Regions from separate parts of the Homo sapiens genome. Here all the other regions are linked to region 3. Evidence: fine-mapped expression QTL. A gene starts in region 3. Each other region holds a variant in brackets. All regions are shown on one strand. Distances are between the middles of the regions. Region 1 overlaps HAGHL (hydroxyacylglutathione hydrolase like). Region 2 holds the start of RHBDL1 (rhomboid like 1). Region 3 holds the start of FBXL16 (F-box and leucine rich repeat protein 16).

Evidence for each region.
Region 1: its variant is fine-mapped to the expression of FBXL16 in whole blood (TOPMed, PIP above 0.99).
Region 2: its variant is fine-mapped to the expression of FBXL16 in T cells (TOPMed, PIP above 0.99).

What each region holds. Positions count from the first base shown.
Region 1 is chr16:727,746-737,876 of GRCh38, reverse strand. HAGHL (hydroxyacylglutathione hydrolase like) reads right to left here. Exons shown (of 8, transcript NM_032304.4): 2 at 9,848-9,912; 3 at 9,644-9,761; 4 at 9,453-9,561; 5 at 9,273-9,373; 6 at 8,982-9,083; 7 at 8,789-8,868; 8 at 8,162-8,589. The coding sequence ends at 8,421. It overlaps CIAO3 (cytosolic iron-sulfur assembly component 3), which reads left to right. Exons shown (of 11, transcript NM_022493.3): 3 at 548-691; 4 at 1,479-1,611; 5 at 3,006-3,140; 6 at 3,530-3,648; 7 at 4,450-4,579; 8 at 5,504-5,576; 9 at 6,175-6,312; 10 at 6,877-7,034; 11 at 7,222-8,112. The coding sequence ends at 7,460. Among named protein-coding and RNA genes, the nearest start is that of HAGHL, 5.7 kb to the right of the region's middle. RefSeq lists an enhancer at 1-188 and silencers at 9,250-9,509, 9,540-9,719, 9,730-9,839, 9,960-10,109. The variant G/A (reference allele first, on the strand shown) is at 6,120.
Region 2 is chr16:675,053-685,231 of GRCh38, reverse strand. RHBDL1 (rhomboid like 1) reads right to left here and starts at 9,561. Exons shown (of 8, transcript NM_001278720.2): 1 at 9,403-9,561; 2 at 8,735-8,896; 3 at 8,336-8,560; 4 at 8,113-8,261; 5 at 7,844-7,956; 6 at 7,673-7,773; 7 at 7,533-7,593; 8 at 6,964-7,451. The coding sequence starts at 9,441. The coding sequence ends at 7,180. STUB1 (STIP1 homology and U-box containing protein 1) reads right to left here and starts at 4,822. Exons shown (of 7, transcript NM_005861.4): 1 at 4,548-4,822; 2 at 3,882-4,080; 3 at 3,629-3,794; 4 at 3,352-3,439; 5 at 3,156-3,212; 6 at 2,951-3,067; 7 at 2,431-2,868. The coding sequence starts at 4,706. The coding sequence ends at 2,743. JMJD8 (jumonji domain containing 8) reads left to right here and starts at 898. Exons shown (of 9, transcript NM_001005920.4): 1 at 898-998; 2 at 1,077-1,166; 3 at 1,323-1,371; 4 at 1,451-1,547; 5 at 1,634-1,702; 6 at 1,791-1,910; 7 at 1,998-2,065; 8 at 2,145-2,279; 9 at 2,358-3,562. The coding sequence starts at 913. The coding sequence ends at 2,438. WDR24 (WD repeat domain 24) reads left to right here. Exons shown (of 9, transcript NM_032259.4): 8 at 56-240; 9 at 330-610. The coding sequence ends at 498. It also overlaps the pseudogene STUB1-DT. RefSeq lists enhancers at 469-518, 2,868-3,455, 3,456-4,043, 4,014-4,063, 9,735-10,179 and silencers at 919-1,228, 4,744-4,953, 5,234-5,343, 9,487-9,536. The variant C/A (reference allele first, on the strand shown) is at 5,776.
Region 3 is chr16:700,465-710,643 of GRCh38, reverse strand. It overlaps FBXL16 (F-box and leucine rich repeat protein 16), which reads left to right and starts at 4,843. Exons shown (of 6, transcript NM_153350.4): 1 at 4,843-5,132. RefSeq lists enhancers at 3,022-3,637, 3,638-4,254, 9,758-10,179 and silencers at 3,543-3,759, 9,766-9,865.

The sequences.
Region 1 (10,131 bases), 27 kb before region 3:
GGCATGTCCCGGAGGCCCCCGACTGGAACACCTTGTTCCTGCATCTGTTTGGCGAGTCTGACGGTTGTTTCTGCCCCGCCCACCGGAGGCCAGGCTCCCAGGCTTCCTCCCTCTGCTCTCCTCTTCCTGTGCCTTCGTCCTTTCCTCCTTTGTCCTCAGCTTTCCCGCCTCCTCCTTTCAGAGCCCACCTTCGGCATTTTCCTGCCCTACAGCCCTGTGAGTGTGCACCGGGGCCAGCACCCCGTCCAGGGCCCCATGGGTGAGTGGGGTGGCTGCTGCTTTGCTGAGATACCAGTGGCAAGCCTTAGTCCTGTGATTCGGATGCACTAACCAAGTGGTACCAAGAAGCAGACTTGACGGCATTATGAAACTGTAGAGCGTGCGTGTGCATTTTTGTAATACATACCTAATTTTTAAAAATTCAGCGGCACACAAGCCCAGCCAGCAGCCATGTTGGTTGTCGGTTATGAGCTGGACTCCACTATCCTCTGTCTCCATGTCCTCGTGCAGAGGGGGCCCCTGTGCACCGGGTTCTTCTCCCTTGTAGGACGGCGGGACCCGGAGGCTGGAGAAGGCCAAGGTCTCGCTAAACGACTGCCTGGCGTGCAGCGGCTGCATCACCTCCGCAGAGACCGTGCTTATCACCCAGCAGAGCCACGAGGAGCTGAAGAAGGTTCTAGATGCTAACAAGGTAAGCAGTGGTCGGCCTGGTGACTCTGCTTTAACCTGAAATCCATCCCAGCAGCCGACAACGCGTTTTGCCAAGGGCAGCTCGTGTGGTGCCGACGTCCGTCGTGCGGGTGGCGCCTGCCTTTTTGAGGCTTGGAATCTTGGTGATTTGTCAGTGGGCTCCAGTGGTGAACGTGTCAGGCCCCAAACTTCAGGTTCTAAATATACATCAAAATGACACCCCTACTGGGCGCGGGGGCTCACGCCTGTCATACCAGCACTTTGGGAGGCTGAGCCGGGTGGATCACCTGAGGTCAGGAGTTCGAGACCACCGTGGCCAACATGGTGAAACCCCGTCTCTACTAAAAATACAAGAATTAGCCAGGTGTGGTGGCACATGCCTGTAATCCAAGCTACTAGAGAGGCTGAGGCAGGAGAATCGCTTGAACCCAGGAGACAGAGGTTGCAGTGAGCCGAGATTGCGCCATTACACACCAGCCTGGTGATAGAGTGAGACTCCATCAAAAAAAAACGATACCCTTGGCCAGGCACGGTGGTTCACGCCTGTAATCCCATCTACCCAGGAGGCTGAACCTGGGAGGCGGAGGTTGCATGCAGTGAGCTCCGATCGCACCACTGCACTCCAGCCTGGGCAACAGAGTGAGACTCTGTGTTAAAAAAAAAAAAAAGACTCTTGATGGAGCTGGCCTGCCCTCTCCACAGCTGACAGCATCTCACCGTGCGGCTCTGGCCACCAGGAATCAGCATAAGGCCAGCAGAGTAAGCAGCGTCTTCCCCTTGCTTTGCAGATGGCGGCACCCAGTCAGCAGAGGCTGGTTGTAGTTTCGGTCTCACCACAGTCTAGAGCATCGCTGGCTGCACGGTTTCAGCTGAATCCTACAGATACTGCCAGGAAATTAACCTCATTCTTTAAAAAAATAGGTAGGCTTTGAACCTGGGGTAACACTGCCGCTCCAAATCAAGGGGGCGTCTGAGTAAGCCCAGGCCCCTCGCGCCTCTGAGTCACTGACACGCTACCCAGCCCTGAACTTCAGCGCTACAGAAACTTTATTCCCTCTGTGACCTCAGCCTGAAGTTTTGATTTGACATTTGAGAGCAGGGCCTTCTCACAGAACACGTCTGCATTCTGACTGTGCACTTTCTCTAAGCTGGGGCTGACCAACTCCTTGTACTTTTTAGCTGATAATATTAAGGCACTCTCTCCGGGGCTCTGTTGGGTTCAGCCAAGGTCAGCTTCTGCTGACTTTGGTTATGTGCCTGGAGCTGGGCTTGGGGAGGATCTGGGTGTCTTGAGAGCCCCCAGCTAACTAGGCTCCAGTGCCTGGTGTCTCACTGGGAATGAAGGGGCTGGACCTCATGGTTACTGTGTGCCTTTCACAGGTAACCACCATGTCCAGTCCCTTCATTCCCAGTGAGGCAGGCCTGTGCGCCTTGTAACCAGCAGACTGCCTGTCATCCAGCTGTGTCCCAGGTCCCTCACACTGGAAACCTGGTGACACTGGCAGGTGCCCCATGGCTCCTGTCTGACCCATATCCAGTTGGTGCCTGAGCAGTGCTCTGGCACTGGGAGCCTGACCTGGTGTCCCAGGGAAAACCTGGCCTGGGGCAGCCCATGGTTCTCCAGATGGAAGGTGTGGATTTCGTCCCCACCAGAATAGGAAGCAAGTTCAAAGATTTTTACTTAGAGATGATGATGACGGGCAAGTGGGGCACAGCGAGTCCTCCGACCACGGGTTACGCGAGGGAGGAATGACAAGTCAGGCAGAGAGAGAGGGACCCACACGCGGGTGCCTCTGCTGGGTCCAGGGCACGATCAGGCAGGTTTACTGAGCAGTTCTAATGGCTGGGCTTGGAGCTGGCTGGCGTGTTCCAGGAGTCCTGCTGTGTGTGAGGGGTGGCCACTATGGTAGGTCTGCACAGTCAGGGTCCGAGGGGCCAGTCCAGCAGGCTGCGTCCAGCTGTGCCCTAGGGAGGGTCACCGGGAGCAGCGCACGTGGCAATTCCCTGGACCAGCCACGCTGAAGAGCTGGGAGGGTGGAGGACTGAGCTGCTGGGTGGCTGCCTCTGGGGTGGGAAACCAAGGCCTGGGTTCACAGGGGATGCCGAGGCAACGTGGCTTTAGGAGGTCCCCACAGTGGGGCTGGGGCTTTGGCGCAACGTGGCTTTAGGAGGTCCCCACGGTGGGGCCGGGGCTTTGGCACGGCAAGCAGGTGCGACACACGTGCCCTGGCAGCACCATGGTGGTCCACACGCCGGCGTGTGCTCGTGTGGGCGTCCCGCATGGGGTTAACCAGGCACCCACCTTCACCTTCCAGGGGTGCACTTCGTCTTCGACACCGCCTTCTCAAGGCACTTCAGCCTCCTGGAGAGCCAGCGAGAGTTTGTGCGGCGATTCCGAGGACAGGCCGACTGCAGACAGGCGCTGCCCCTGCTGGCCTCTGCCTGCCCAGGTGTGCTCATGGTGCGGGTGGTGGGAGAGTCAAGTTCAAGTGCAGTTGAAACGTGAGGTGATATGGACACAAATGACAAGGCGGGGGCATGGGGGGTGGAGACGCAAGCAGGTTTTGCGGGACGGGTTGGAAATGTTGGCACAAATGGCCTTTTCTGGAGAAGAGGCTGCCCTCCCGTGGGAGCCACGCGCAGTCACCTCAGGTCCCTAGGCGGTGTCGCCTGCACGCCGAGCTCCGCGTGGTGGTGGGGAGAACAGGAATGAGCACTCTTTAATGTCATCATGATCTCCTGTATGAGCGGGCCCGCCCCCAGAATGTCGTGCTGCTGCCTGTGGGTGCGGGGGCCGCCGTGCGCCCCCGCCAGCCCCGTGTGCCCCCTGTCACCTCAGGCTGGATCTGCTATGCCGAGAAGACTCACGGCAGCTTCATCCTCCCCCACATCAGCACCGCCCGGTCCCCGCAGCAGGTCATGGGCTCCCTGGTCAAGGACTTCTTCGCCCAGCAGCAGGTAACGGCGTTGGGCCAGCCCCAGACTCAGGCTGGGGAGCGGCCAGAAGTGACTTTGCTGGCCTCTTGCCATGAGGCTGCAGGAAACAGAGTCCTCGCTGTGCTGTGCGGCCTTCCCCAGCACACCTCCACCCTTGTTCCCTCCTGGTTCAGGCCCTTCCTCTTCTGCAGCAGAGGGCTTCGTTCTGATCCAGAGGTGCTCACTGCTCACCCAGAGGCAGCCAGGCCTGAGGCTGAGGGAGCAGGAGGCCCTGGGCAGTCCGGGCCTGGAGCCCACCCCTCCGGCCACCAGGTCCACGAGGATGCCCAGCACGACCCCCACCTGAGGCCCAGCGGGATAGAAGCCTGAAGACACTCAGCCAGCAGGGGGCGGGAGAGGGCGAGGGCGGCCCCGGTGGTGCCTGGGCCTCGAGCGCCCATGTCCCCTGCGGCACCTCTTGCCTGACTGCACGCGGATTTTCACCCGGGGCTGGAGCTGGTTGGTTCCCCCGTGACATCCGTTTCCCCGGCTGCTGTGCAGTGAGACGGCCCGAGCCGTGGGAAGGCCACTTCTCCTCCGCTGGACTTGGCTGTTAGGGAGCGCAGGCACACTGGGAATGGGTCAGTGTCATTTTCTGTCACAGCCAGGGCCCGTCCTGTCCAGGGACACATCCGCAGAGCCGGCAGGAGGCTTGCTGGGAAATGGAGTGAGGCTCACTGTCCCTCGGGGTCCGGCCTGGCTGCAGGATGGCTGAGTTCCAGGTCCCGTCTCAGCCACCTTACTGCTGGGATTGGGGAGACAAGTGTTTGTTTCTCCTTGTAGCACTTGACCCCTGACAAGATCTACCACGTCACAGTGATGCCCTGCTATGACAAAAAGCTGGAAGCCTCCAGACCCGACTTTTTCAACCAGGAGCACCAGACACGGGATGTGGACTGTGTCCTCACAACAGGTGCGGTCACGCCGTGCGGCCCTGAGCCCTCAAGCCTCCTGGTCTGATTCCTGAGCCCTGGGCACAGGTGGCGACTGCCCAGGATCCTGCCTGTGGGGGCCCTGGCTGGAGTGTGGGGGCTCGCATGCGTGCACGTACCTTCGTCTCTCCCCTTGGAGCCAGGTGGGCCCATTTGCAGCTGGCCTGTCTTGGGGACCTGCAGCCAGGTGGCGCTCAGTAATACCTCCTTGTTGGCTCTGAAATGAGTCTTTGGAGGTGGGCAGAGATTCTCGAATGCAGCCTCTTCAGCTCCCATGAGTCACCCCATTCCTGAGTCGAGCAGCCCCACAGTCTCCCAAATGTGAGGCAGAAAAGCAAACTGTGGCCGGGCATGGTGGCTCACGCCTGTAATCCCAGCACTTTGGGAGGCAGAGGTGGGTGGATCACGAGGTCAGGAGTTCAAGACCAGCCTGGCCGAGATGATGAAACCCCATGTCTACTAAAAATACGAAAATTAGCCGGGAGTAGTGGTGGTGCTCCTGTAATCCCAGCTACTCGGGAGGCTGAGGCAGGAGAGTCACTTGATCCCGGGGGGCAGAGGTCGTAGTGAGCCGAGATCGTACCATTGCACTCCAGCCTGGGCGGCAGAGTGAGACTCCGTCTCAAAAAAAAAAGAAAAGCAGACTGCCTAAGAGGATGGACAGATGGACACTGGGTGAGCAGAGTGGCCTGGCCGCTGGCACACCTCCCTGGGCAGGACCAGGCAGCCTCCAGAGGGGCTTCAGGAGTGACCGGGCCTGGCCTCCCCACCACGGGCTAGGGTGGACATTTGGGGCCTTCTGGGGCCAAAGTGCAGACTGCTGGGGATGCAGGTGGCTTGGATGTTCTCTGACTTTGTTGCTGGGATCTCCGCTAAAGAGTGTCTGCGCTGTGGCTTCTTTGCAGGAGAAGTTTTCAGGTTGCTGGAGGAAGAGGGCGTCTCCCTCCCCGACCTGGAACCAGCCCCTCTGGACAGCCTGTACGTATGTCTGCCACCAAGAACTGTTATTTTAGCTTCTAACGCTGCCTCTGAGGATAGCATCCCCCTGCTCTGGGCTTGCCTCCCCGCAGCCCATCTTGGCGTCCACAGAAGTGGCTGGATAGCCAGGCGCAGTAGCTCACGCCTGTCACCCCAGCACTTTGGGAGGCCAAGGTGGGCAGATCACCTGAGGTCAGGAGTTCGAGACCAGCTCGGCCAACATGGTGAAACCTCATCTCTACTAAAAATACAAAATTTAGCCAGACATGGTGGTAATCCATGCCAGGCCCTGTAATCCCAGCTACTTGGGAGGTTGAGGCATGAGAATTGCTTGAACCCAGGAGGCGGAGCTTGCAGTGAGCCAAGATCACGCCACTGCACTCCAGCCTGGGCGACAGAGCAAGACTCCGTCTCAAAAAAAAAAACAAGAAGTGGCTGGGCCCCTGTGATGGCTGGTGACACAGGAGCTGTTCCTCTGTGTCTGTGACTTGTCTCCCACCTGGAAATGCAAACGCTCATGTGTGAGGGACAGAGGCCCTGCTC[G/A]GGAGGTTGGCAGGCAGCAGCCCCAGCTGTGCTGAGGCCCCTCCCTCCTTGCCAGGTGCAGCGGTGCCTCTGCAGAGGAGCCCACCAGCCATCGGGGAGGGGGCTCGGGGGGCTACCTGGAGCACGTGTTCCGGCACGCGGCCCGAGAGCTCTTTGGAATCCATGTGGCTGAGGTTACCTACAAACCCCTGAGGTCAGTGGGATGGGCCAGATCTCTGGGCAGAGCGGCCACACAGCCCCCAGCCTTCCTCGGGCTGCTGCCTCCCCTGGGGTCCTCCCACAGAGGTGGGCTGGGTGGAGGGCAGCCTGCAGGGTTTGGAGGGGACCCTGGGGCCAGGCAGGGCCCTCCTGGCGGGCTCAGGGTGTGAAGGCACCTAAGCACTCCAGGCCTCAGTCGGCCCATTGTGGGGGATGGTGACCCTGAGCCCGAGAGGCCAGCATGGGCAAAGGTGATGGGTGCCTGGCGCAGGCACGCGACCACATCCCAGGAGGGAGGGCCAGGGCCTCACAGACATCCCTGGGGAGGGAGGCCTGTTTCACAGACAGCCCGAGGCTGGAGGTGAGGTCCCCTGCTGGACTCAAGGAAGTGAGCCTTCCACCCTCTCTCTCCGTTCTTGTCCTTCCCTCTGCCCAGGAGAGAGGGAGAGAGCCCTGGGAGGTACCCGGTCATCCCCTGAAGCCCAGCAGGCCTCCCCTTCCAGGCAGGCAGGAGCCTGGTGGGTGTGCCATGTAGACAAACCCCGCCTGTGCCCCCCAGGAACAAAGACTTCCAGGAGGTGACACTGGAGAAGGAGGGCCAGGTGCTGCTGCACTTCGCAATGGCGTACGGCTTCCGCAACATCCAGAACCTGGTGCAGAGGCTCAAACGAGGGCGCTGCCCCTACCACTACGTGGAGGTCATGGCCTGCCCCTCAGGTAGCTCCTGCAAGGGACAGGACACGAGGACCCCTTCTGGGAGCAGAGCTGTGGGCCACCATCCACCAGGCTGGGAGTGGGAGGAAGTGGGGCACAGAGGGGGCCCGGTCACCTCCCTGCTCCCTGGTGGTCAGGAAGCTTGGCTGGGGCGCAGGCTGTGACCCCTGTCCCGTCTGCTCTCCCATAGGCTGCCTGAACGGCGGGGGCCAGCTCCAGGCCCCAGACAGGCCCAGCAGAGAGCTCCTCCAGCACGTGGAGAGACTGTACGGCATGGTCCGGGCTGAGGCGCCCGAGGACGCGCCTGGGGTTCAGGAGCTGTACACACACTGGCTGCAGGGCACGGACTCGGAGTGTGCAGGTCGCTTGCTGCATACGCAGTACCACGCCGTGGAGAAGGCCAGCACTGGCCTGGGCATCCGGTGGTAGGGGCTGCAGGACCAGGACTCCCAGGAGGCCGTGTCCATGTGTGACAGCAGAACCACATGCCCCAAGACCCCAGGGCTTCCCCCAAAATTCTGAGTGAGCTGCAGGGTGTGCTGGGACCCGAGTAGGAGCTAGGACTAGCCAGGACCCGCAGCCGCCTCGTCACCTCCAGTTGGGTGCCTCTGGGTTCCCACTGGCTCTGCCCAGGTGGGGTGGGGTGGCCCAGGCAGCAGAAGGTTCCCTGAGGTCCCAGAGCCTGTTCCGTTGGCCCTGGGCCGAGGCCCACAGGTGCTGCCCTTGCTGCTGCTGGTCGGGCACCCAAGTGCGTGAGGGGCTTCAGCCTGTCCCGGGGTTGCCTGAGGCAGAGCAAGACGGGTTCTCACCCCTGACTTCTGGAGGCTTCCCTTGAAGCTCTGTGCAAAAGGTGGGAGACAGAGCTGGACCTGCAGGGGTGGTCCCGCCACAACCCTGCGTGTGGACCCTGGCAGGGGGGGGTGCCAGGCCCCTGGAAAGCAGGGGTTACCGTTACGAGGCTGTGGTCCGGGGCAAGCCAAGTACGAAGCAGCAGCCATCGCGGGCTGCATCATCCCCCAGCCAGGTCCCCACCAGGCCTGTCTCCCAGCGTTTGTCTAATAAACGCACCCCTCCTAAAACACGCCTACGAAAACAGCTCCTCTCCTGGCACATCTGCCAACACTGACAACGGCCTTTCAAAGCTTTATTCATAGTTCGGAGGCCCCGTGTGCCCCACTTCCCAGACACCCAGGTCTCGGCGCCCACACAGGCCCCACTGAGTGGTCCTGTGTGTCCACCCGGGAAGCACCAGGTTGCCCACCCTCCGAGGCTGGGCAGATGGCTGGCCAGGGCCTCGAAGAAGGTTCCAGAGGTGGCCCTCATGTGGGTCCAGCTGGCCGAGGTCACGAGGAGGGACGCAGGCCCCAGCCCTGTGAGGGTCTGGGTGGCTCAGTCGTGTGGGGCTGCACTCAGGAGCCCCCACTGCAGCGCAAGGAGGGCCCGCGCCTGTGGCTGCCGCGGCTCGCCCGCCTGTTCGAAGCGCGCCCGCTCCTTGCATAGCGCCTCCAGGACGTCGGCGGGGACCGCCTTGCCCGTGAACTTGCGCACCGGCTCCTCTCTGCAGGGAGGGGTGCAGTGAGGCGCAGGGCCCGCTGCCCACGCGGGAGCATGGCGCCGAGGGGTGGGCGGGCAGGCAGGCACTTAATGAGCAGCCTCCCCCAAGCCAGAGATGCTCACTCAGCCCAACACGCAGTCCCCAGATGCCTTCCTAAGGGTCCACGTAACGGTGGAGGCCCCGGGACAACAGCCATACTCACGCCACCCGCAGGAAGGGGTTGTAGAGGCGCTCCTCGCCCAGAGTCGACGGCACAGTGGGCACGTCATCCTCATCCCTCTTCTGGAGTGACCACAGGCCCCGGTCACCATTAGGCCTTGTCTGAGAGCCCCCCCCACCCCGAAGCCTGTTCCCTCCCCCCCCACCCTCTTGCCGCGGCGGGAAAGGGGCCGTGCCTTAGCCCAGGACAGCTTGGCTCTCACGTGGTCGTTGCAGGGCTCCACTTTCTGGGCAAACTCCAGGTTGCTAAGCGTGTGCTCGTGGCCGCAGAACACCTTCTGGAGGAAGAGCGCTCGGTGAGCGCGCACGCGGCCAGGAAGCGGGGAAAGTGCTTGCGCCGGGGGCCTGGCCTCCCCTGCCCGGTCTGCCCTCAGGTGGGCATTCACTCTGCACCCCTAGCACAGTGAGGGTGCGGAGCGTGGGGGCTGTGCCCACGGGAGAAGAGGGGAGGGCCCAGGCCCGCTCACCGTCTCGGGGGGCAGGGTACCCAGCTCGGCCAGGCTCTGGTACATCTGCTGGGCGCTGCCCTCCAGGCACGAGCCGCAGCCGGCCACCGACAGCGCGTCGCCTGGCGGGGGAGGGCGGGTCAGAGCAGATGGGGCGGGGCCGGCGGGAGGCGGGGTGGGCGCGCTCCGCGCTGCGGGTACCCGAGAACAGGGCGGGTGGGTCCGGGCAATCGTCCTCCCACAGGAAGTAGCTCATGTGGCCGGCGGTGTGGCCGGGCGTCAGGAGGCAACGCACGTGGATGGCCCCGAACTGCGGCGGAGGAGCAGGCGGACCTGTGAGGGCGGGTGGACCCGGGGCGCCCTCCCCGCCCCTCCCGGGAGCGCGCGCTCACCCGCAGCTCCTCGCCGTGCGCCAGCCTGCGCGTCAGCGAGAAGATGCGCTCGTCCGCGCCCAGCACCGCCAGCCCGGGACGAAGCCGCGCCAGCTCCGGGTTTCCCCGCGCGTGGTCCCTGCGGGCGGGCGGGCGGGGGCCGGGTTAGGTCGGGTTGGGACAAGGCGGCGTCCTCGTGCCTCCCCGCGCCCCGCCGGCGCTCACCAGTGATGGTGGGTGGTCAGCACAGCGGTCAGAGACACCCCCTCCCGGCCCACGATCTCCAGCAGCTGAAAGGGACGGGAGTGACGGTAACACAGACGGTCCCGGTGGCCCACTCCCTCCATATCGGGATCCGCCGCGCTCACTGCCCCAGGCCGGCCAGAGCCCCGGGGAGCGCCGGGGAGCGGGGACCCAGCGGGCGGTGACTGCGCCCAGCGCGTGCAGGGACCGCCAGGCAGCAGCGAAAGGGCGGAGGCCAGAGGTGCCGTAACTTCAGGGAGCCCCAA
Region 2 (10,179 bases), 25 kb after region 3:
CTGCAGCGCCGCCCCTGGCACCCAGATCCTGACTGCCGGGCGCTCCCTCCCCCAGGAGCACTGGTACACTTCCTACATCGACCTGCTGCAGCGCTTCCGCCTCTGGAACGTGTCCAACGAGGTGGTCAAGCTGAGCACCAGCCGCGCCGTCAGCTGCCTCAACCAGGCCTCCACCACCCTGCACGTCAACTGCAGCCACTGCAAGCGGCCCATGAGCAGCCGGGGCTGGGTCTGCGACAGGTGGGGCAGTGGGGTCGGGAGGTGGGGCAGGGGCCTGCAGGCAGCGCAGCAGCCCCCGCTGAGGCACCCTCCCTCCCGCCCGCCCCCAGGTGCCACCGCTGCGCCAGCATGTGTGCCGTCTGCCACCACGTAGTCAAGGGTCTCTTCGTGTGGTGCCAGGGCTGCAGCCACGGCGGCCACCTGCAGCACATCATGAAGTGGCTGGAAGGCAGCTCCCACTGTCCCGCAGGCTGCGGCCACCTCTGCGAGTACTCCTGACGGGGCATCTGCTGGGCTTGCCCGGGCGGCCGCGTGCAGAACCCCGCCTGGTCTTGTGCCCGAGACGGGCGGAGGCTGGAACTTGAGACCTCAATAAAGGAAGTAGAGCCGCTGTCGGCACTGCGTGTCACCCCATAGCGCGGCGGGCTCGCCGTAGGCCCGCGGGGCAGCTGGCGGGCGGGGGCTTTCGGCGGGGTTGTCGCCATGGTAACCGGCGGCGCCCATAGTCGCTCTCGGGGCGGCCTTCCCAGTGCCTCCCGTAGAGGCCTCTTCCGGGGCGGGCCAAAGGAGGTCACTTCCGGGGTCCGTCCCGGTTCCCGGCCGTTGCCACGACGACGAAGCTGCCGGCCAATGGCTGGCGGATGGGCCCAAGGTTCCCGGCGTGCAGCGCGGCTGCCTGAGGGCGGCAGGCTCATGGCGCCGGCGTCGCGGTTGCTCGCGCTCTGGGCGCTGGCGGCTGTGGCTCTACCCGGCTCCGGGGCGGAGGGCGACGGCGGGTGGTGAGCGGCCCGGGAGGGGCCGGGCGGTGGGGTCACGTGCGGCGGGCGGGGCGCGGGCTGACCCAGCTGTGCCCGCAGGCGCCCGGGCGGGCCGGGGGCCGTGGCGGAGGAGGAGCGCTGCACGGTGGAGCGTCGGGCCGACCTCACCTACGCGGAGTTCGTGCAGCAGTACGTGCGCCCCTGATCGCGGAGGTCGCGTCCTGTTCACCGGCCCGTCTGCCCCGACCGCCCAAGGCCGCCTTCCCCTGACCTCGCGCGCACGCGTGGGGCTGGGGCGGCGAGGCTGGCGGTCCGGCCTGGCCGCGACTCTGCCCTTCTTTCCAGGTACGCCTTCGTCAGGCCCGTCATCCTGCAGGGACTCACGGACAACTCGGTGAGCGCGTGCCCGTCCGTCCCCGGCCACTCTCGCCCGTGCTGGGCCCGGCCACTAAGTCCCCTCCCCGCCCCCGCAGAGGTTCCGGGCCCTGTGCTCCCGCGACAGGTTGCTGGCTTCGTTTGGGGACAGAGTGGTCCGGCTGAGCACCGCCAACACCTACTCCTACCACAAAGGTACGCGGCCTCACCCCTGGGGCCCGCCCATTTGCCAACACCGGGGCGGCTGGACCAGACGGTCCTGACCCGTCTCTTTCCTGCAGTGGACTTGCCCTTCCAGGAGTATGTGGAGCAGCTGCTGCACCCCCAGGACCCCACCTCCCTGGGCAATGGTGAGGCAGCCCTAGGCGGCGGTAGGGGGTGGGGACGCTTGGAGTCTCCAGGTGCCAGGATCCCTGTCCCCGCCGTCTCTGTTGGCAGACACCCTGTACTTCTTCGGGGACAACAACTTCACCGAGTGGGCCTCTCTCTTTCGGCACTACTCCCCACCCCCATTTGGCCTGCTGGGAACCGCTCCAGCTTACAGCTTTGGAATCGCAGGTGGGTGCTTCTTGGGACTGGGAAGGACTGAGGCTTCTGTCGGTGAGTACAAAATGGGTTGGTCACCAGGTGCTCATAACCCCACAGGAGCTGGCTCGGGGGTGCCCTTCCACTGGCATGGACCCGGGTACTCAGAAGTGATCTACGGTCGTAAGGTCAGCACGGGGTGGGGGTTGAGGCTTGGGACTCGCTGACCAAAACGGGCAAGGGTGACACTGCTGCTCATGCCCCCAGCGCTGGTTCCTTTACCCACCTGAGAAGACGCCAGAGTTCCACCCCAACAAGACCACGCTGGCCTGGCTCCGGGACACATACCCAGCCCTGCCACCGTCTGCACGGCCCCTGGAGTGTACCATCCGGGCTGGTGAGGTCAGTGGCTGGCAGGAGAGGGCCAGGCCAGGCTAGAGGCCCGCAGCTAATCTCTGCTGCACCCCCTTCCTCCACCAGGTGCTGTACTTCCCCGACCGCTGGTGGCATGCTACGCTCAACCTTGACACCAGCGTCTTCATCTCCACCTTCCTCGGCTAGCCAAAACAGCTGGCAGGACTGCCGGTCACACACCAGCACGTCCCACCTCGTGCTCACGGATTTTATTACACAGATAGTGGCGGCAATGGCCTCAGCCCAGCCCACCCTCACCTGCTTTTCCAGCCCACAAAGGGGGACGATCACGGCCCAGCAAAAGCGATGCTGAGAGGGGAAACAGTCCAGAGTCCAACAGCAGAACTTGGGGGAAGCGGTCGGGGTGGCCAGGAACATAAACTATGTATAGGGGCCGGGGGCTTCTGCCCAGGGCTCCCCTGGACCAGGACGCCAGGTAGGGCAGGGAACCTCAGTAGTCCTCCACCCAGCCATTCTCAGAGATGAATGCGTCAATAACCTCCTTCATAGCCAAGTTGGGGATGAGCTGTTCCTGGGTCAGGGGGCTCCGGGTCACGGGGTCAAAATGACCCACACGCTGCAGTGACAAGAAGGGCAGAGGGCAGTCATGGGGCCCAGGACCATGCCACTGGCCCTGCTCCCCCAGCCGCAGGCCTCACCTGCAGGTGCTCCTCGATGTCCTTGCGGTCGTAGGTGATGCCACTGGGCGTGATGCACGGCTCCCGCATCAGCTCAAAGCTGATCTTGCCACACAGGTAGTCGGGGATGTCTCGCTTCTGTGGCACAGGGGCACACGGTCAGAGGCTGAAAAGGGGCACTGCACGAGCACCTGCCAGCCATCGGCAGCAAGCGACACACACTCACCTTCCTCTTCTCATCCACCTGAGAAAAAAGCTCGTCCATGTCCGCCATGTACTTGTCCTGTGAAGAGTTGAGTGCTGTGCTTGGGGGAGACACCCCACCTCCCTCCTCCATGGGGCACAGACCCAACACAAGGCGGGGATGCTCCCACGCCACGTGCACACACACAGACCCACATGTGGGTGGGGGGCACCCTCACGTGCTTGGCCTCAATGCAGGCCTGCTGGGCCCGGACGTGGCTGTCGTCCTCATCACCCTCGTGGTTTCGCTGGCACTCTTCCAGCTCCCTGGGGGTTGACCAGGAGCCGGTCAGAGATGGACCTGGCCAGATGTCTGACCACACCCCAATCTCAGAGCTAACATCCACACTTCCCCACATTTCCTGCTTGCCAGTAAAGCCTTCGATAAACGCTTGTGTCGGGAGTCGGTGATTCAGAATTATCCCAAGACAGGGCGGCCTGGGGTGAGGGTCCCACCTCTCACGCTCCGCGGCAATGAGCCTGGAGAGGTAGGAGTGCAGCTCGCTCTCCTGGTGGATGCGCCGCTCCTCAATGCTGTTCCAGCGCTTCTTCTTCGCGATTCGAAGAGCGCTGGGGATGTCGTCCCCGAAGTTCAGCCGCTGCTCCTTGGCCAGGCTGTAAGCTGGGGAACGGGGGCTTCACGTCACTCTCTGGCCAGTCCACCCGCCTGGCCCCAGAGGCCCCACAACCGGGCAGCTTGTCAGCCAACCTCGCTGCAGATTGGCGATGGCCTCATCATAGCTCTCCATCTCCAGCTGGCACTGCCCCAGGAAGAAGTGCGCCTTCACAGACTGCCCGTCCAGCTCCAGGGCGCGCCGGCAGTCGGCCAGGGCCTGCTCGTGCTGCTGCATCTTCAGGTAGCACAAGGCCCGGTTGGTGTAATACACGGCCACCAGCGGGTTCCGGGTCTAGGGACCAAGGCCGGGCCAGCCGCATGAGGGCGTAGGCTCAGCGTGCCCACTCTGACCCACGGCCCGTCCCAGCTTCTGCGCTCTGGCTAGAATCAAGAAACTAGGTTTCTCAGTTGTCAAAGCCCCTGGGTCCAAGGATCTGTGCACAGTGGAGTACTGGCTGAGCCTATCCGCTTGATTCCACTTGGTTTTGTAAAGTTTTCCAAATCTTTGGAGAGTCCGGGCTTAGGACCTGGGGTCCTCAAGGGTCGAGGGCCCCTGCCCTCCCCCCACCCGGCCGGCCTCCATCCAGCATCGCACCCTCGTTCTCCGGCACCCGGCGCTGGGCTCGAGAACCACGGCTGGGCTTTGGGAGCCGAGGACACGCCCCGAAGAGGAGCCAGACCCTCGGTGGGGCCGGCCGGGCCCGGGCCCGGCCCTCCCCGGTGCCACCGCCGCCGCCCTCCCCGCGCGGGCGCACTCACGATCGCGCGGCCGTAGCAGGCCGCCGCCTCCGGGTACTTTCGGCCCACGAACAGACGATTGCCCTGCTCCTTGAGCTCCTGCGCGCTCGGGCTCTTCTCGGGGCTTCCGCCGCCAGCGCCCAGCCGTGCGCCGCCCTCCTTCTCCTCCTTGCCCTTCATGGCGCCGCGCGGCACGGCCTGGGCTCCGCTCCCAAGCTCCGCGCCTCGCGGCCCAGCGCCCGCAGCCGGAGCCCCGCAGCCCGAGCCCGCGATCCGCTCGGGCCCGGCCCAGCTCCGCCGCCGGAACTTCCGGCCGGGGGCGGGACCAGCGGGGACGCACGCGTGGGGGCGAGTGGGGCCGCGCGTGCGCCCAACCAGCCTGGACGGGGACACTGGGCCCGCGACGTCGGGGGCTGGGAGGAACGCTCCAGTTCCCTGTCCCCGCGCTCTTAAGGGTGGGCGTTCGCGTAGGCCCTGGCCTGCCCTGCTGAGGTCTCTTCGGAACCCGCCTCGGCGGCGGCCGCCACACACATTCGACTTTCCCAGTGAGATGCCTCACTTGCTTCGCTGAGGGCGCGCTCCCGCAACAGCCTGTCCCGACCACCTGGGGTTCCGCCCCTGTCCCAACGCGCAGAGACCCCTCCCCCGGCAGCCGGCCCCATCCAGAGGCCCCGCCCCCAGCAGCCGGCCCCATCCGCAGAGGCCCCGCCCCCAGCAGCCGCCCAATCCAGAGGCCCCGCCCCCAGCCGCCGGCCCCATCAGCAGAGGCCCCGCCCCCAGCCCCATCCGCAGAGGCCCCGCCCCCAGCAACCGCCCAATCCAGAGGCCCCGCCCCCAGCACCCGGCCCCATCAGCAGAGGCCCCGCCCCCAGCCGCCGCCTCCCGCCCCTGCGCGTGAACGTAGCGGCTTCCCACGCGCTGTGGGGTGTGAGGACCCCAGTCGCTGGGCTGCCATTCTGGAGCGCCACGAGAGGTGCTACGGGCGAGCGCGAGCCCCCGAGGGCGGCTGGAAGCCCCGGACTGTTGGTAGAGTGGAAGGGGATAGAGATCGGTGGGGCGAGCGTCCTCCGTGGCCAGTCCTCCCCTCACCGCCCTTCCTCAGGTATCGGGAAGAGTTGCCAGCGGCCATCAGGGGCAGAGCAGAGAAGCATGTGACAGGGAGCTGGAGCGGCTGCTGGCCTGGCAGCTTGACTGTGAAGGGCGGCCCGCCCCGAGGGCAGGGCCTCCGTAGCGCGGGTCTTCATTGGGG[C/A]GTGGCATCGGCGGGGCGGGTGTCTCCAGTGGGGGCGGGGCCTCCCTGGTGGGTCCAGCACCCCAGGCACCCTGACCTGGCCTCCCACAGAGGGGCGCTTCCGGCCACGTCTGCAGCAGCTGGTGGCCACCAATCCCCCTGAGCTGGTTGTGCACTGTTCGACCGCCACCTTCTGCCTCCTGCCAGATGTGGGGGCTGCAGTCACCGAGCTGTGTGCCCTCTGCGGTGTGGGCCCACCACAGCCTCGGGTGAGTTGGGTGGGCACGACTTGGGTACATAGGCGTTCTTGTCTGTGAAGCGGGCAGTCTGGGCCCTTGCGTGTCGCTAGGAGCAGGAACCATAGGGCCCTGGGCTGCTGGGAGCAGGGTCTCCCAGAGCTTGTCCTGATGGGGTGTGTCTGGCTGCTTCTCCTCGCTGTTCACAGCAGTCCTGGCAGCTGGAGCTCCAGAGATGGAGGCCTTCATGTCAGATGAGGCGGTGGCCACAGTGCCCGGCTGGCCGGCCCCACAGTACACCCTCAGGTACTACCTGCTGTACCTGGGCCAGGTTCAAGAGCGGGCCACAGCTCTGAGCCAAGGGGAATGAACTGTGTGTGGGCAGGTTGGGGTGGCCCGTGCCCCTGGGCCTGAGTCCGTGTGCCCCTCCCTAGCCAGTGCCTCAGGACAGTGGACTCCCTACCTAGTGGAGACAGCACTGTGGACCTGGGCTGTGGGGCAGAGGCTGTGCCCAGACCTGCTGCCCAACCTTGGCCCCAGCCTGGCCACCCACGAGGATGCTAGGCCAGCCAAGAAGCATGGAACCCAGGCCGAGTAAACTTGGCCATGGCCCAGGCCTGCTCACCTGCCACAGAACCTCAGGCCTCCGGGTCTCACTGGACGGCAGGGAGGCTGAAGAGGAGGCTGGCCACTACGGGAGCTCAATAAACACTTCCCAAACTCACGCCTGATCACACACCCGGCCTGACCACACACCTGGCCTGACCACACGCCCGGCCCCCAGCCATCCCGCGTGCCCCCAGCTCCCACAGACACAGCACCTGTGGCCCAGGAACAACTCCCACGCCTGACCCCAGGTGCAGAGATGCACAAGGAGGGAAGTCCAGGCCCCCGTGGTGGGGAGGGCCGTCGCGGTCTGTGCAGCAGGTGTGGGGGCCCTGACGAGTCTCCAGAGCCCGGGACAGCCCCCTGGTGCTGTGTAAAATATTTATTAATTATCCAAAAAGGCTCAGACCGCAAGTCCTGGGAGTGGGGGGTGGGTGGCTGGGACAGGGCCTCCTTTGAGGCCACCCACACCCAAGGGGCACAGCAGCCCTGAGACGTCCGTTCACAAAGGGCAGACGTGAAGGCCCCTGGTGGGCGGCCACCACATGCCCGAGCCCTGGCCTGTGCAGCCTCAGGTAGCCGGTCAGGGCGGTGGGGGGATGTGGGCGCCCAGCAGGTCGTAGGCGAAGACGTTCCAGAAGACGGCGAAGAGCAGGAAGGTGCCGTAGGCCAGCAGCACCACCCACCAGCCGCACTGGTCCCGCAGGCGCTCCTCGTAGCTCCGCAGGATGGTCAGGCCCATGCTCACCCCCACCACCGCGCCTGCCAGGTGCGCCATGAAGCTGGGCTGTGGGCCCGAGGCGGGCAGCGGCGGGGAGAAGCGCAGCCACACGGCCCGGCCCACCTCGGAGCTCACTGCAGAGGGACGCGGCAGGTGGGAGGTGCCCTGGCTGCAGGCTGAGAGGCCCCCCGGCCCTCCCCCCGGCCCCTACTCACTGCACACCAAGGCCAGCACCATCCTCAGCAACTTGTAGGGACATCTCATCCCAGCCCAGTTCTATGGGTGTGTGCAGACGAGAAGTGGTGAGGCTCACCTGGGGCCCCTCCCCACGCCCCCCACCGGGCAGGCCCGTTACCATGACAACGTTGGCCAGGTGTGCCGAGCACAGGGCGTAGACCCCGCCGGAGCCTCCCACCACCGGGGCCCGCATGTCGGTGATGGAGACGGTTAGGGAGCCTGTGTGAGCAAGCGGCGGGTGAGGGTGCAGCCGGCCAGGGCAGGGGGCGGGGGTGCGCGCCTGCCTCACCTGCCAGCACGCCTGCCAGGTAGAGCAGGCTGATGCGGAGCAGGCCGTGCACCATCTCCAGGGGCACCCCGATCATCAGCTGCAGGAGGGCGTTGAACCCCAGCTGCTCCAGCCTGGCCACAGGGAAGCAAACGGGTACGAAGGGTGGGGTCAGCCATCCGGCCCCACCCCCAGCCGTCACCTCAAGTTGCCGCACCTGCCTTGCGGCTAAGCCTTTCTGATGTAATGGCAGGTTGGGGCGGGGCTCACCGGGCAGCAGTGCTACTCACCCAACGTGCATGAACATGTAGGTGAGGAAGCGCCAGGCGCGGGCACGGTGCCCGGGGTGGTACACAAGGGGGCTCTTCATGTACTCGGGGTGGTAGGTCTGCAGCACCCACTTGTTGAGGCGGGCCCCGTAACACAGGAACACGATGATCTGGGGACACGAGTGTTAGGCTGGTCATGGCCAGGAGCGCGGGAGGCTCCCGGGGCAGCGGCCGGGGGGCCCACCTGGGCAAGAGTGACCGAGGCCATGAACACGGGGGGTGGGCAGCTGCGGTGACGGTAGAAGTACCAGCGGCGGTCCACCTCACAAGGCAGGATCTCGTAGGCCACGTAACGCACAAACCGCTTGTAGACACCTAGGCCTGGCTCATCCAGCGGCCCGTCCCGGGGCAGTGCCCGCTGTCCGTTAGCAATGGCCCGCTTGAAACTGCTGGAGCGCTTGCTGCTGATCTGGGGGCAGGGGCCTGAGTGTGGGCCACGGACCTCCCCATGGCACCCCTGCCTGTGAGGCTCACCCAGCTCCCCGCATCCACAAGCCCCCCACCCACCGCCGTGAGGAGCTGCCTGCCCGCCTCCTCTGGCCAGGACACCGTGCCCCTGCCGCCTGCCCACCGTGGCACTGACCAGGTCCACCAGCTCCTGGTAGCAGACCTGGCCCTGCTCGTTGCTCTGAGCCAGGGCCACCAGCATGTCCAGCTTGGCCGGGTCCAGGGGCAGCTCATGGCTGTGCACCAGGCCAGTGAAGGTGTCCGCACCGATGAAGCCTGTGTTCTCGGGGTCCAGCTGCTGCAGTGAGGAGCCGCCAGCCAAGGCCTGAGTGCGGGCCCGACCCCTGGACCAAAGGGCTGGGCCAGGCTGGCTGGGAGCATCAGGCTCAGGCTCCCAGCACTTTTGGGACAGGGGCCCCGTGCCTGTCTGTTCCCTGGGACCCTGCTTGATCCCAGGAGCTGGCAGGGCACTGGTGCCTGGGTCCCAGTCCTCCAGCTCCTCAGTTGTTCCCCCGTCTTCCACCCTACCCATCCTGGAAAGCGAGGGCCAAGGTCCAAGACCAGCCAGCTGCCCGCCCTCCCTCCCTCCCTCCCTCCCTCCCCCCGACTCTCCCTTCTCCAGCCAGGAGCTCTGGTCCAGTCAGTCCTCTCCTGGGGTCCCAGACACACGGACCAAGGTCGTGGAGGGATGAGGTAGGTACCGAGCGGGGCTTTCGGGGAGCTCGGTCCCGCACAAGCTCAGCTCAGCGGCAGGAGGGCCGCATTGGGGGCGGTGCCAGCTCCCCAGACCACCCCCCGACGCACCTGCTCCTGGATGAGCTGCAGCAGCGAGCTCCTGTCCATAGAGCCTGGCCGGGGGCCGGGGTCCGGGGTCGGCGGCCGCGGCCGGGAGGGGCTGCTCTGCGGACGACTCCGCTCCGCCCCAGCCGGCCCGCTCCGCCCGCTCCGCTCGGCGCCGCGCTTGGGCCGCGTCACCGAGTCGCCCGCCTGCCCGCCCCTGCCGCACACGCCGCCACGCGCGGCCAAGACACGCGCGCACCCTGCACGCGGACGCACACCCCGGACAGGAACCGCCTCCAGCTAGCACCGCGTCTCAGCGCCGGCCCCCACCCCCGCTCTGGCGCAGCTCCAGCACACTGGACTACCTCCACGGCAGCCGCTGGTAAATGGAGTCACGGGGATGGGGGGCACCTAAAACCCCCCATGCAAGACCGTTCGCCCTCTCACAGCCTTCCCGGGCTCAGGCCTGTGAGGATGCCACCTCTTCCAGGAAGCCTTCCCTGACCACTGCTTGCTCCCCCTCCAGGCTGACCCAGTACTCCCTGCGGTTCATGTTGCCACCGGCTGGAGCTCCCTGCTTGCAGCAGACACACCCCCTCCCCCCGCAACCCCCCACCGAGCGCAGCAGCAAGGAAGTCCCTCGTCCCGCATGGCCACTACAGCCGCCTCTTAGGAGGAGGAAGACGCTGCTGCAGCCGCCTTGGCTCTGACGACCAAGCCCAGCCCACTCGTCCACACCCTGGGCTGGAGGCCCCTGACCACTCTTGCAACTCCATGCAGGACAGCAAAACCTCCCGCCCT
Region 3 (10,179 bases):
GAGGCAGACAGAACTTCGAGTAAACCAGGAACCACAGAGGGTGAGCCCTGGGGGCTCCTTGTTTGCTTGAAGCTCCATCTGCCTCAGAGCCTTTGACCTGCTGCAAAGGGGAGGCGGGTAAGGCCGGCCCCACCCAGCCCATCTGCCCTGAGGGAGTTGGGGAGTTTGGACGCACCGGTGAACAGGATCCCCCAGGAAATGGGGAGGAAGCCTAGAGAGAAGGGCCAGATCGTAGGCCAAGACCCCCGCCTGTGTCTCTGTTCACTGGCAGCGGAGCGAGGAGAGAGGTGTGGGCTGACCTGAAGCCAGCGCCTCCTGTGTCCCCAGCTGAGCCCTGCACGGGATTGGCCAAATGTGCTGCTCTGCGGCCGCCCTGCTGCCCCCTCCCTGGGTGGAGCTGGGGTCTGGGACAGTGAAGATGGCTCCCACAGCTGAGGGGCACTGGGTGCCAAGAGCCTGCCAGACCCTGGGCCACCCAGAAACATGCTCTGATAGTGCAGCTGTGAGCACTGGCCTGCGTCCCCTCTACCCAGCCGACCTATGAGGCTCAGGGTGCTTGGGGGCCCATCAAGGACATAGTCCTAGCTGCCGACTCATCCAGGCAGCCTGCACAACCCCTGGCTCCCCTCCACCGGCCACCTGCCCCCCTGCACAGGCAGGATCCGGCCTCGCCCACCCACAGGCCTGCACCTCCGGGCCCACGGCAGCAAGATTCCTATCTTGGGGATGCTTTCCTCCCTTTGCCGAGAGACCCACCCCCCCACACCTTGCCTCTCTTCAAGGAGCCGAAAATGCAGCTGCCGACTGATTTGCTGTGGAGCTAAAAATAACTGCCGGGCTCCAGCCAGGGCCCAGGAAAATATCCCATTGCTAGGAGACAACCGTTGCCGGGAGACCGCCATTGCTAGGCGACGCGTGTTGCTATGGTGATGGCTGGGCCCTGAGTCATCCTTAGCCTTGATAGGGGGCGAGCCAGGCAGGGAGCAGAGCTGGGGGGCATCAGAGAAATCCCACCGCCCATGGCACTCAGGGCACCCCTAATGGCTGTGAGGTTCTCATGCCTATGGGTGCCCATTCTGGCTGTGGAGGGGTCGGGACGGCCAAACATACCCACAGCCTGCTGCTTCACATGGATGATCCTGGGTGCTCTCGGGCTGTGCTCCAGGCAGGGGGCAGGGGCAGTGTGTGGGGGGATGGTGGCGTGGCCATCTGGCCCCCGGAGCAATCACTTTGCTCTCCAGTGTGGGGATATCACCACAGGTGCAGAGCTGAAGTGAATGTGGGTCCCCTTGCAGTCCTCCAAAGTCTCAGGGCAAGATGTACCAGCAGCCTCTGGTCCTCATCCCCATGGCTCCAGAGTGCCCTCCCAGCCACCTAGATGGGAGACTCCTCAGTGCTGAGGCATCAAGGCAAGGGGTGGTCCCGGTGAAGTATGCTCCTGGTAGGGGTTCTGCAGGAGAGGGGCTCTCCAGGTGAGGGGTGCTCCAGGTGAGGGGTGCTCCAGGTGAGGGGGTGCTCCAGATGAGGGTGCTCCGGGTAACAGGGTGCTCCAGGTAACAGGGTGCTCCAGGTGACGGTTCTCCAGGTGAGAAGGTGCTCCAGATGAGGGTTTTCCAGGTGAGGGTGCCCCGGGTAACAGGGTGCTCCAGGTGAGGGTTCTCTAGGTGAGAGGATGCTCCAACTGAGGGTGCTTCAGGTGAGGGGTGCTCCAGGAAAGGAGTGCTCTGGATGAGGGTTCTCCAGGTGAGGGGTGCTCCAGGTGCCCTCCGGAGCCAAGGCACATACCGCCTCCCATATCAGTCTCCAGGACCAATGGAGGGGTGCGGGCCTGAGCGGTATCCACATCCCCCAGAGGAGATCGAAGTCTGCTGAGCAGCCCCCTTTGTCCAAGCCACTTCCCTCTGGGGTGTGAGCTGTTCTCCAAAGGTATCCTCTACAAGGGCCTCCCGCCACAGGAGGCGATCCAAACTGCTGGTGCCAGTCACCTTTCATGCTGCTGACGCATCGCTGTCTCCCTCATTCGCCAAATTTGCCATGCACCTGTGACGTACTGAGATGGAGGCTCAGTGCCCAGGGACAGGGTGGTGGGGAAGAAGACCGCACCCTGGCCCTCAGCAGGCACAGTCAGCCAATAGCTCATCAAATGCACCATCAGACACCAGGCAGACACAGGCTGAGAAAAGAAGGTCCTTGGTGCTGGGGAGGTGAGGACACGGGTCTGTGGCCCTGTCCTCCTGAGGGAGGGCACCTAGGGGAGAATACATTAGCCAAGGTCTGAAAGGCAAGTAGTCACCCAGGTACAGGTGGCAAGGGAGTGCTCCAGGCAAGGGGCCAGGAGAGGAGTGCTCCAGGCGAGAGGTGCTCTAAGGGAGGGGTGCTCCACATGAGGAAATGCTCCAGGAAGGGGTGCTCCAGGGGAGGGGTGCTGCAGGGGAGCTCCAGGTGAAGGGAGGGGTGCTCCAGGTGAGGGGTGCCCCAGGTGAAGGGTGCTCCAGGTGAAGGGAGGGGCACACCAGGTTAGGGATGGGGCACTCTCCTGGCCCCAGAAGAAGGCCAGTGTGGCTGAAGCTTCATCCTCAAGGGGCCAGGTATAGAGCGAGGCTGTGGGCCAGCCGTGCCAGGCACTCAGGGCTGTGCAGTCTTCAGCAAAGAATGAACAGGGCCCTGGGAAGAACAGGACCATGTCTGCACGGCAAAATGGCCCCGCTGCACCCTGGGGAGAAAAGGAGATGGGAGAGGGGTGGAGAGACCAATGGGGAAGTAGCTGCCACCAGCCATGGTGGAGACAGACAAAGTTGCCCGGCACAGGTGGGGTCACAGAGGTGGAGGGTAGGTGGGTCACAGCTGGTGACAGAGGTGGAGGGTAGGTGGGTCACAGCTGGTGACAGAGGTGGAGGGTAGGTGGGTCACAGCTGGTGACAGAGGTGGAGGGTAGGTGGGTCACAGCTGGTGACAGAGGTGGAGGGTAGGTGGGTCACAGCTGGTGACAGAGGTGGAGGGTAGGTGGGTCACAGCTGGTGACAGAGGTGGGGGGTAGGTGGGTCACAGCTGGTCACAGAGGTGGAGGGCAGGTGGGTCACCGCTTTGGAGGAGCACGGTTGGCCTTTCTGTGATGATCTTCCACACACTCTTCCCTGCTCAGATTCCCCACAGGCAGGGCTAGCTTCTTGGGCCTCGCCAGGGTTGCATGACCCAAATGCCTGACTCCCACGCTCACCCTATGCACTTGGGGTGTGTCCAGCCCACCCTATGCACTTGGGGTGTGTCCAGCCTGCCCTGTGCGCTTGGGGTGTGTCCGGCTCCAGCCCCAGCTGGGACTCAACACAAGCACAGCTTGTTCTCTGCCTGAGGCCCTGGCACCTGCTGTGGTGAGAGCCCCAGGCACGAGGTGAAACCCTCCTACCGGGAGCAGTCCACGCCTGGGGTGGAAGCTGCTGCCAGAGGGCCAGCCTGCCAGACCATGCACCGGAGACACCCAGATAGGTTGGACCGCCGCTCCCCTGTTGCCCCAACTGTCTTCACGGGGCTCGTCCTGTCTGCCCCACTCCGGGCACCTTCTTTGGTCAGTATCCAGGTACCGGGCAAGACTTACGCAGAAGAGCTGCTGCGCTCACCCCAGGTAGACCCAGTGGCGCCCCCACAGCAAGCACAGAACCACCCCACCCCGGGACCCAGCCAGGGTGCCGTCAGTCTGACCCTCCTTCCCGCTGACCCCAGGCCTCACACCGGCCCCTTCGGCCAGGCTTCCCATCAGGACGCTGGGAACAGCAGCTGGTTTCACTCCTATTGAGATACTCTCAGGAGCCCCATTCAGCCCTGTAGCTCTTTCCCGGTGCAAAGAACCCCTCTGCTCTCCCCACACCTGCTCCCTCCCCCGGCCCTGCTCCCAGGAGACCCCAGGATAGGGCGCCATTGGCCTCCATTCTCCTGCCCTGAGCCTGCTGGGGCGTCTGGGGTCTCCAGCGGTCCCCACCGAGTCCTCCACCTAACCTAGCACGCCCCACCCCTGCCCCGGGCTGCAGCAGCCGCCGCCGCCTCCAGCCTCCAGTTTATTCCCGAGGGAACTTGCCAGGCTCCTCGGATCTTTGCACCCCCATTCCCGAGCCATCCCTCCCTCGCGCCGTGGGGGGGTCTCAGCTCCAGTGGGGCACCCTCAGGAAGCCCCCGCCAGAAGTCACCACCGCAAGCCCTCGGGTGCTTTCACTGTCACTGTCTGAACTGATCCGTGCAGTCACTTGTTTTCGCGCTCTGCGGGTGTGCCAGGGTCTCCAATGAGGGGCTTCCGGCCGGGCACGCAGCAGGTGCGCGGGGGGTGTGAGGGCTGTGAAGGGTCCTTGCCGTGGGCTGGGCGGGAGGGTCCAGAGACGGGGGTCTGACCACCCTGTCTCCTCTGGGCCGGGTCTCGCCTTCCTCGCCTCCCCAAGTGGTGGCCAAGGGCCGGGACGCGCGGTGCCGCCCCGGTCCCCATAGGACCCCGGACCCCTGGGCCACCCGCCGGCGCCTGCTCTCCCGCCTCCCCTCGCCCTCCCTTCTGCCTCCCGCGCCCTCCCCGCCCGCCGCGCGCCGGGGTTTGTTATTGTGCGGGTGCCCGCGGCGAGCGGGGCGGGGGCGCGTGCCGGGCCTGGCGCGTGCTCGTGGACGCCGTGCCGGGAGCGCGCCGCGCGCGGGGGCCGGGGCGGGGCGGGGGCGGGGCTCGGCATTCTCGGCGCCCCCGCCCGGGCTCGCGAACCCGGATTGGCTCGCCACGCCGGGAGCGCGCGAGGGCGCGGCGTTTGGTGCCGGGCGGGGGGCGCGCGCGGCGCCGGCGGCGGCCACGGAGGAGCGCGGGGAGGGCGAGGGGAGGAGGAGGCGCCCGCCTGGTTCCCTGCAAAGCGGCCTTATTTATCTGGGCACAGCCTCAGCCTCCCCGGTGGGAGGCTTGGGGCGGCCGATCCTCTCCCACCGGGGAGCTCCTTTCCGTGCGCTGCCGAGGGGGCCCGGCCAGGACGGGACGCGGGGCGCAGGGCGCGGCCGGGCCCTGCCGGCCAGTCCAGCACCCCGGCGGCCCCCGCGCGCCGACGCCCATGCCGGGCTCCCCATGACGGGAGGTCGCCCGGCGGACAGCGTGGCATGAGCCAGGAGCCCGGGCCGAGGTAAGGTGCGCGTGCGGCCGGGCTGCGGGGCCGGGAGGGGGCCAGGCCGCACCTCCGCGGCGGCCACAATGAGGAGGGGGCGGGGTGGGGGTGGGGGCCGCGCCGCCGCCGCCCGGGAAGGGCTTACGTAACGGCAGCCCCTTCCCCACCTCCCCCGCGGCCGCTGGGCCTCGGTCCCTGCCTGGCCTTCCCGCAGCCCCGCGCCCCGGCCCCTGGCCCGGAAGAGGGCCGCTCCCCACTGGCCACTCGGCCGGGGCTGGGGGTCCGTGCCTCCTGGGACGCCGAAAGGAGGAATTGTAGGCCCCCGGCCTCCACCCCGGGCGCCTGGTCGGCTCAGAGGGCGCCCCCGGACCGAAGTGACAGGCCAGAGACCGTTAAACTGCATGGGGGTCGCGTGGATGTGCGGCCTGAGGGGCGGCCCTCCCCGGGCGGGCGGCTTCTGGACCCGGGGCCTGCGCTGAGCTACTGCCCGCGGGAGGAGGAGGGTGGGGGGAGGCTGGCACCTTCCTGGTTCTGGAGGCGGGACCGGGCCTTGGCCAAGGTTGGAGGGCCTCAGAAGGGAAACGGCACCTTCAGACCTGCTCGGGAGGGGTCCGGTGTCCTCCTGGGGATTAGGTGGGTGGAGAGCGTTCCCCACCCATCACCTCAGGAGAGAGGGCTGCGGTGGCAGCTTCAGGAACTGACGGCCCAGCGGCCACTCCAGGCCCTTCCCAGGCTCCAGGCTCTGTTCGGGCAGCCTGCCCTCCGCAGGAGGAGCAGATGGCGGAGGCCACCTCACCTGCCTCTTCCTTCAGGCCCTTCCCCCACACCCGTGCATCCGAGGGCCCAATGGCCAGGGGCAGCTCAGGCCTCCCTGGACACAGGGCCGTCTCCCAGCCCACCCCCTCTGTGGGGTGCTGGACAGCAGCCTTGGAGCAGATAGGCCTGGGTCAGGCCAGGAGACTGAAGGGTTTTCTGTCTCCCGGACCAGGGCAGAGGCCTAGTGGAACCTGGCTGGTCTGGCCAGAGGTGGACACAGGGCTGGACCTGGAGCCGCCTGGAGGGGAGGGAAATTCAAGGCCCAGCTGCAAACATCGCTGTGTGGGGGAACCCTAGGACTCACTTGCCCCACTCCCTGCCCCCTGCCACCCCAACTGCCCCTCATCTGGGGCCAGACCCTTGAGTTCAGCCCCTCCATCGACAGACTCACTGCCTCCAGCTCACACCCACTTCCGGGGCGGCTGGACGAGTCCTACCTCCCACTGATGAGAAGGACACAAACAGCTTCCTGTGTGGGAGGCACGGGGCCCTTGAACCAGCTGGACATGGACCCAGGAAGCCTTGTGTTGCTGAGAGTTAGGGATCTCCCACCCAGGTGGCACTGTTCAGCCACCCGAAGACCCCATCTCCTTGCATGTGGGCACCCACTGCTGTGCCTCCCATGACTGGATTGGCAGTGAAGGGAGCTCTGTGGGTGAGCAGGTGACTGAGCCTTCCCCACCAGTGGTGCAGGAGGAGTCAACGGCCAAACTGGCTGCAATGTGTGGGTTCAGGCCTCATTCCTTCACTGGGCAGGAAAGAGGGGTGATGGTTAGTGGCAGCTGCCTGGAGCAGTAGGCACTAGGGGCCCAGGCCTCGCCTCTGAGGGTGCTCATGCTCTTCCGAGCAGGGGCTGAGATGAGGCCTGGATCCCAGCACCCACTCCCCAGGGTGTCCAGCTTTCAAGGCTGAGCTGCCCTGGGCTTGACCATGGGCCCTCAGTCTGCTGGGGCAGCAACACGGGTTTCTCTTGAGGCCACGTGCCTGCTGCGCCATGGTGCCCCTCCTCAGAGCCCCTGGTGCACCCCCAGAAGCATCTCAAACTGGGGGCGGGAGAGGAGCTCTGCCGCTGTGCCACGTGCCAAGTGGCAGGGACGCGGGTGTGCCTGCGTCACGGGGCTGCCACGGAATGTGTCAGTCTGCACCCTGTCCCCAATCCCCAGCCACCCCAGCTGTCAGCCAGGCTCTGGGGCTGCCACTGCAGATGGAGCCCGATGTGCATTTCTCTGGCCACCAGGGCCCTGCCCAGCTCTAAGGCCCTCTGCAGGCAGGGCTCAATGGTCCCTGAGGTTCTATGAGGGCTGAGTGGTTGGTTAGGCTGTGCCCCAGTCTGGTGCTGACAGAGATGGGGGCACCAGAGATGGGGGAAGAGACCTTCAAACTGGGGGCGCTGAGGGGTGAGGAGGTTTCCCAGGCATGTGTCCAAAAGGATGTCCCAGGGGTGGGCACGCGGTGTGCAGCCTCTGCAAGGAATGCAGCGCCGTGGCAGGGACCCTGCAGGATGAGGGCAGTACTTGGAGAGACCACTAGCCCAGGGCCCAGCAGGAAGGCATCGAGACCCCATGAGGCAGAACAGGGCAGAGCGAGGACCCTGTGAGGTACACCTGGCAGGACCCAGGTAGAGGGAATCAGCCAGCCCCGGGGCTTTTGGAGCCAATCCTAGCTCTATGTAACTTCTGGAAAATCCGTCTGCAAGCTCTGCTTCCCCACTCCTAGTTAGGCAGTGTGTGAAGGAAGGACTCTGGCCGGTCAGAGGAGGGGTGCGTGTGGTGCCAGGGAGAGCGGGGCAGGAGGACCCCCTTCCCTCTCTTGGCTCAGGCCAGATGGTGGAGGACGGGCAGCCACTTCCTCAGCCCTGCAGCTCCTGAAGAGAGAGCCAGCTGAAAAGGAGATGGGCCCTCCTCATCCGAAGGCTCTGTGTATTGCAAGGCCCACCCCAGCCCTGGGGTCTTGGGAGCCCTCTCAGTGACTCAGGTACCAACCTAGTCCCAACCCCAGAGGCCACTCTCCCCGCGGACACTGGCCATGGCACGATCCGGGTTAATTTCCCGAGCTGTGCCTTCCCCGCTGACCGGCCTCTTCCTAAATTTGACCAATCCTCCATCAGCCCTCCGGGGGCCTTGGCAGCTGCACCCCTTTCTGCGTGACTGAGCTAGCGGAGCCACATTCCGCATTCATTCATTCGTTCCCTAATTCATTCATTCCGCGAACATGCAGAGGCCATGCACGTTGGTGCTGTCTGTCCTCAAGAGTCCTCAGGCCAGGAGGAGAGACACCAGGTGGACAGTGATGATAACCCATGTGATTGCAAGACCCTGGAGACGCTTTCTCAAGAGCTGGGGGTCCCGGAGCAGGAGGCAGGGGCGACCTCGCACCAGGAACTGAGGGATGGAGGAGAAGAGCTTGCAGGGCTAAGGCAGGGAAACCCTGCCAGGCAAGCAGGGGGAACGGCGTGTGCCCAGGCAGAGGAGCAGGGGAGGAGGAATGGCATGGCTGGGCTGTGGCATCAGGGCTGGGAAGGGGCCGGAGCTGAGGTCTCCGGGCTCAGTGACTTGATTCGCAGAAGAGGCAGCTCCTGCGGGGCCCCCACATGGCCGTCTGGGAATGGTCAGCCTGGATGCTGTACATGTACATGTGGGGACCCCCAGGAGCACCCAGGCCCCACCGTGCTCCCTAGGCTCACTCTGGCCACACGCTTCACACTGCGTCCCCTGGGGAGGACACAGAGGCCACGGCCACCTCTCCCCAGCAGCTCCCAGGCCAGGCTCAGGCTGCTGAGGACAAGACAGCTGAGGTGGGGCCACCTCTCTCTCTTTCCCCTGGGGTGAGCCCCGGAGCCTTGACAGGATTCCACTTCAAGCTGAGCCAGCACCACAGGGGCTGAGGCTGAGGATGGTGCAGGCATGGCCACCTTTTTAACAAGTCTCTTCCCCGTATTAGCACCCGGGCTGCTTGTCCCTAAAGGGAGAGGCAGTCCCTAGCAGCCCACGCAGGTCGTCCGAGCCCCTCTGGGTGGAACGAGGGCTCTCACAGTCGCCAAGCAGGAAAGGGGGCTCTGTGAGCCATGGGAACCGGCTCCTTGGTGACCGTCTGGCTGGGTGGGTGGGGCCGGGCCCAGGGCCAAGCAGAGGGGCCCTTGTGTGAGCCCCCAGGGACTTCTCGCTGAACGGGCAGAGAGACCCCAGTCTCCAGTTGAGCTCAGCTTTCTCCCGCAGCGCCCATGCCTGGGCCAAAGTGTGTGGCTGTTTGCATTTTTGAGCTACGGGGTGGGGGATATTCGGGCTGAGTCAGTCAAGCCGGGAGTGTGAGGAGCAGCGGGGGCCGGCAGGAACGTGGACGCGAGATTGGGGAGCAGTGGGGCTGCCTGTGCGGGGATGCAGCTCCCACCAAGCACACGGGTCGAGGGCTGACCACAGGCAGAGCAGCGCCTTCTGGCAGCGCTGCGGGTGTGGATGAGGGAAGCCAGGCCCCGGACCCATACCCAGACGGCCGCTCCTCAGCCTGTCCCCTCCCTCCTGTGGGCTCTCAAAGTGCGGCTTGGTTTCTCCATCTCGACCCTGAGGCCTGGAGGTGGGGACGGGACTGTGGGCGCCGGCAAACGTGAGCTCCCGAGCGGGGCGGGAAAGGAGCCCCGCGAATGCCTCCCCCAGCCCCGGCGCTCCACGTGCAGGCCCATGACTGGGAGCGTTTTCAACCTAAATCGGCACTGCGCCGGGATTATTCCTCCCCTGGCGCCGCCCCCGCCGCCTCCTCCGGATCCTTCCCGGCTTCTCCCCCACTCTTCGCCCCCGGGGCCCCTCCCTGCTGAGCGGGGGCTGCCGGGATTTGGGATTGCGGGGCTGCCCCGACCCCGCAGCCGTCCGCGGTGGAAGCCAGCCCGGGCCTGGCCCTGAGCGCGCGGCTGGGGCGGCCGCTGTCCATGGTGCTGGCGCGGGTGGCGCGCCGGCCGGCGGGGTCTGCGGAGGCCCAGGCGTCCCTGGCGGGGAAGGCGGCGCTTCCGGGTCTGGGGAGCGAGGGTCCCCGCTCTAGGGGCACGGAGGATATTTAGACTGGGGCGCCCGTGGGCCTGGTGCTGCCGCCTCGGGCGCCGGCATCCTGCGATATCCCCTCTCCCCGGCTCTGGGAGGGAACCGAGGCAGCCCCGCGCCAGGCCTCCCCGGACACCTGGGGCAAATTCGCTCCTCAGAGCCTCGTGTTCCTTCCCCAAACCTGAGGTAGCGACCCCTCCACCCCTAAGGGCGGCCGTGAG